Regions from separate parts of the Homo sapiens genome. Here region 2 is linked to region 1. Evidence: fine-mapped expression QTL. Tissue or cell type: unexposed skin. Region 1 holds a variant in brackets; the other region holds the start of a gene. All regions are shown on one strand. Distances are from middle to middle.

Region 1 (2,500 bases):
CCCATGGGGCTGGTCATGGAAGGAGCCTGCAGGTCACGGAAGGAGCCTCAGGGCAGACAGGACACTGGGGAGCCCTGGGATGGGCTCATAGGAGGGAGCACTGGTGGGCGCCCCAGGTCTTGGCCAGCCCGAGGGACCAGGCCCTGACTCCTCTCGCAAGGGCTTGCCAGACCTCCTCCAAGATGCCCTGGAGGACGATGGCCGTGGGAAGAGCAGTCAGGCCATCAGCGGGCCCCTTTATCAGACCCCAAAGGGCTGAGTGTGCACCGCCACTCCCTGGGGCCACTCCTGTGTTCCCCCACCCACCTGCTTTAGTTAGGGTCTGGGGGCCCCCGGAGGTGGTGACGCAGGGTGCAGGAAGCCAAGGACAGAGTTCAGAAGCCGGCAGGTGTGGCAACACGTTTAATTCTGTGGCCAGGCTAGCCTGTCTCCAAGGCCTGGTGGACAGCACGTCACCAGAGGCTGCCGCAGGAGCAGGCAGGGCCAGCCCTGCAAGAGGAGTGCAGGCAAAGGCGGGGGCTCTGAAGTGGCTGCTGGAGGCAGCAGGCCCCGGGCTGGGAGTGCTCAGTAGCCGTCGTTAGCCCAGGTGACCTCGTAGTCGGGGTACTTGGCTTTGATTTTCTCAGTTGAAATGGCGTGCTGGGCAGGACCATAGGCCTGGAGAAGAGAAGACGCCTGCTGGCACTACCTGGACCCTTCAACCCGATACCCGGCTCTGGGCATCCAGCCACCAGCCACACCAGAAGCGAGTGTGGGAAAGGGATAGGCAGTGCCTGGGGATGCCAAACCCACCATCCCGACCGCCCTTGGGGGCTCCCCTGGGGAGAGGCGACCTCCACAGGCAAGCAAACCTTGATGGTGGATCCTGGGGCCTGAGGCGCCCAGAGGGACGCACGTGGGTCTCATCTGCTGGTGGTTTTTGTGAAGAGCACAGGTGGGGACTCTGAGCTCCACCCAGGTACTGACTGCCTCTGGGGGCCCAGGGCCCAAAGTGCTGGAGGACAGCTAGAGCCCAGCAAGGCCTCCCAAGGCAGGGAGAGGAGACAGCCGGCCATGTCTGGGGGTGTCCGTCCCACCCCTCAGGTCTGGCGTGTGCTCCATGGGGGAATGCAGGAACACAATGGGCCCTGGAGGGAGGGCTCTGCCGCCGACCCTGGGAGAACCCCAGGAAGCCTGCGTGCTCAGCTGGGG[C/A]CACGGGTCAGGGCAGCAGGCTCAGGTGGGCCTCGAAGCTGGTACTGGGGCCTCCGGCAGGGCGGGACGGGGCTGCGGCTCACCATGGAATAGCCGTACACGTGAATCTTCTTGTCCTGACTCTGGTGGGAGATGCGCCCGCCGCCCAGACACTCACAGTCGCAGCCTTGCTTCTGCATGTCGCCCGACACTTTGTCGTAGATGTCCGCTGGGATGGGAGGGCGGCCTCAGGACGTGCCCTGGCCGCCCTTGGAGGCCGCGGGAGGAACTCCCAGCCGAAGGGGTCTGAAATCCCAGCTCTGAACAGCCCCTTCCCCAGGAGAGACGAAGCCCCTTGAGGCTGGGACAGGGATGAATGAGCGAAGGAGGGTGGAACCGGGGAGGGCGCGGGAACTGGGAGACTGCTGGGGAGGGTGTCAGGCCGTGTCACGCCCTTCCCGCCCAGGACCTCAGCCTGGGTCAAACCTAGCAGGGGCAGGACTCGGAGCAGAGCGCAGTCCGCTACGGCCCGCAGCCCCGCCCCCGCCCCGCCAGCCCCGCCCCTGCCTCGTCAGCCCCGTCTCCGTCCCGCCAGCCCCGCCCCCGCCTCGCCAGGCGTGCCCCTGGCATGCCCGCAGGTCCCGCCCTCACCATGGTACTCAGCCCACTTGTAGCCGCGCACGATCTCCTTGCTCTCTGCAGCCGGAGCCCCGGAGCGGGGAGCCGAGTGGACTCGGATCAGCACATACTTGAAGACGCCGTCGGAGTCGATGTCCACATCAGGAATGAGAGCGAGGTCCGCCACCGCCATGTTCCTCCTCCCGGAGTCCCCTCCTCCCACCCGACCCGGGGGCCGCTTGTACTGCGGGAGGCGGGCTCTGCGAGAGCGACGACCAATCCCGTCGGGGAATGCTTCCCAAGGCCCAGCGCCTCAGCCAATTGTACCGCCGACCGAGGCACGTGCTGACCAATCGCAATCCAGTTCCTTGCCGCCTTGCGGCTCCGCCAGCCCCGCTTAAAGGAAACGTGGAATCGGGAATGGGTGGTGATGAAATCCAGCCAACGGAGAAGTTCCTCTCCAGCGGGGTCCGGTGGCACCCTTGGAACGGGGCAGTTAGGCGGCCCGCGAGGCTGGGGCAACGAGGGAGGCCTGAGGGACTTGCCAGCCCTGACCTCCTGTCCCGCACGTAGTCCGAAGACCACCCTCCCCGTGGCCCCCACCGCCCAAAGGCCTCCCTCTCTCCCCCTCCCACCGCCCGAAGGCCTCCCCCCTCCCCGCTCTCCACCGCCCGAAGGCCTCGCTCTCCACCCCCTCCACCGCCCGAAGGAC
Region 2 (2,500 bases), 42 kb after region 1:
TCCCCAGCCACAAGTTCCTTTGATGCTTGGGTTACTGAACACAAACGCAATGGATTGTTTGTCTTCAACATAATCCGTTTCTGTTCCTAAACGTGTTGGCTGCGCTTTCTTTCTGATGAGCACGCTGACTCTAATTTGAACTTCATCAAAATCTTCTTTGTCGTCGTATGTTCTAGAGTATAAGAAAAGCCAATACGGCCCTTGGTTCGGACATCAACTTTCTTTTAAATTTTTTTTTCGTATTTTTAGTAGAGACGGTGTTTCACTATGTTGGCCAGGCTGGTCTCGAATTCCTGACCTCGTGATCTGCCCGCCTTGGCCTCCCAAAGTGCTGGGATTACAGGCATGAGCCACCGTGCCCGGCCCGGACACCAACTTTCATACCTAGATGCTCAGACTTATCTTTAAGAAGTTGTTTTATCTTGCTTACTGCTAAAGGTGTCTGGGTGAGGGTGGCCCGAGTGGTCTGCAGCTTCCTCTTGCTCACAGGCCGGGGGACTAAGGAAGGCGACATCTTCACTGTCCTCCTGGACTAGCTCCAGCCCCAGGAACTACGGCCTCTCTCCGTGCACACGGCACGCGAATTCATGAACTTGCTTTTAAACCTGCACAAGAGTCTTTCTGATCATTAGTTCTTAAAATTCTACATTACCATGGAAATATCACGGAGGCTCTAAGGCTCCCCTTAAAGTGACCAAAAAACTGGATAGGCGTAGCGTCCTAAAACCTCATAGAAACATACGGAAATGGCTAAGAGGGAAGCAATGTCAAAACAGGGAACCACATAAAAGCTTTCAAAAACTACTGGGAAAGAGCCCGCAAGATGGAAAAACTCATAAGAGGTCGAGGACAATTTACACAATTTATAACAAAGGAATGGAGCGTCCCAGGCACTCAGGAGTCCGTAAATGACTCCTCCTTCCTACGAGAAATGGGATGTCTCCTACAGTCGCAAGTCAGCCCGTGCCTTCTGGAGCTTTTCTAGATACGTCTCTTACAAACGCTTCTTTTAAAAAAAAAGGCGAGAATGTGTGGCGTAGCTAATATTCTGTCTTCAAACTCAGTAGGAAGTCAACAAAGAAAAATCCCGCTGAAAGCGCCAAGGCCGGCTGGGTTCCCCGCACCTCCTGCAGGTGAGTGGTGCCCGGGGCTGGGCACCGTGGAGCGTCGGGGGCGCGGCGCCCCGGGCCGGCGGGCCCTGCTTGGCATTATGTAATCACCCCCGGGCCGGGCAGCCGGGCCAACCCCGCCGCCGCCGACCCGCTCCACTGCACAGCGCGGCGGGAGCGACACGCGGCAGGCGAGTGCGGCTGGGAAACGACCCGCGGCTCGGGGGCCGCGAGGACCCGGCCCTGGCCTGGCCTCTCCTCGCGTCCCCTGGCCCGCGCCCCCGCTCCCGGAGCGCCCGGCGGGCCCAGCGCACCCCACAACCGGCAAGCAGGTGAGACCGACACCCACCACCGCGCGGCGCCCGGGGCCTGGGTTCGGAGACCCGCGCGGCGCTCCCGCGCCCCCCCGGCCCGCCGCACTCACTGTTGTACTGCACCCCCTTGGCGAAGCGCCTCTGCAACGCCTGGTTCATGGACTGCAGCCCGGCGGGGATGTTCTTGTCCCGGCCCGGGGCCTGGTCCGACCCCACCAGCTTCTTCAGGGCGGAAAACATCTTCCCGCTCGGACGTCCCAGCCCGGGCGCGGCCGGCGAGCTCAGCGGCGGCGGGGAAGGGGTGCGACTGGCACCATGTCCCGGCGGCCCCGGCCCCCCCGGAGGCCGGAGCCGGCGCGGCCAGAGGCCGGGGTCCCGGCGGCGGAGCGCAGCCCCGAGCGGCGACTCGGGAACCTCAGCCGCGGCTGCTCCGCTCCGGCCCCCGCGGCCTCCGGCGCGACCGCTCTCCAGGAGTCAGCGCCGCCATCTTGGCGCCGGCTCGGCGGGACGGGAGGGGTGCGCGGCTACGGGGCGCCGCGAGGGCCGCGGGGGCGCGGCGCGCGCGGTCGGCGCATGCGCACGCGGTTCTGGCGCGCAGTTCCGGGCCCGGGCTGCCTCCTTACGCAGAACCTCCCCCGATCCTGCGTGTCCCGTGCTCCTCTCCGAGACCCCGGTCGCCCCAGCGTCCGCAGCAGTCCTGGAAAAATGTTTATTTGTGTAGCAAAGCAGGGAGCGGGGCGGCGGGGCTACTTCTTCTTTTTCTTGGCCGCCTTGAGCTTCCCCTCGATTAGCCGCTGCGCCTGCCTCTTGATCTCGGCGCGCGAAGGGACGTAGCTGTGGTCCATGTCGGGGAACTGGAAGGTGTCTGCGGGCGGAGGCGGCGGCTCGCACACGGGGCTAGCCCAGCTAGGCGCAGCCGCCCGACCCGCCTCTCGCCCCCGCCCTCCACCGACCCGGGCCAGGTGCCTTGCCCCAGGGACAGCCCCAGCGTGCCGGGAGGACTCAGCCCAGCCCATTCGCAGCGGCTCACGCTGCCCTGCCTAGCCTTTCCCGCAGAACCCCCAGTGGAAGCTCCGG

What was found. PIP is the estimated chance that this variant, and not a neighbour inherited with it, causes the effect.
Region 2: CCDC183-AS1 starts here. The variant in region 1 is fine-mapped to the expression of CCDC183-AS1 in unexposed skin (GTEx, PIP 0.95).

The regions. Positions count from the first base shown.
Region 1 is chr9:136,848,912-136,851,411 of GRCh38, reverse strand. PHPT1 (phosphohistidine phosphatase 1) reads right to left here and starts at 2,003. Exons shown (of 3, transcript NM_014172.6): 1 at 1,822-2,003; 2 at 1,275-1,399; 3 at 388-657. The coding sequence starts at 1,981. The coding sequence ends at 565. RefSeq lists silencers at 1,682-1,761, 2,152-2,211, 2,392-2,471 and an enhancer at 1,752-2,031. The variant C/A (reference allele first, on the strand shown) is at 1,192.
Region 2 is chr9:136,807,360-136,809,859 of GRCh38, reverse strand. It overlaps CCDC183-AS1 (CCDC183 antisense RNA 1), which reads left to right and starts at 1,012. Exons shown (of 5, transcript NR_024580.1): 1 at 1,012-1,133. CCDC183 (coiled-coil domain containing 183) reads right to left here. Exons shown (of 14, transcript NM_001039374.5): 14 at 2,119-2,288. The coding sequence ends at 2,170. RABL6 (RAB, member RAS oncogene family like 6) reads right to left here and starts at 1,912. Exons shown (of 15, transcript NM_024718.5): 1 at 1,534-1,912. The coding sequence starts at 1,663. It also overlaps the pseudogene LOC100422233. RefSeq lists silencers at 1,101-1,630, 1,641-1,770, 1,791-1,850, 1,901-2,070, 2,271-2,500 and enhancers at 1,776-2,372, 2,373-2,500.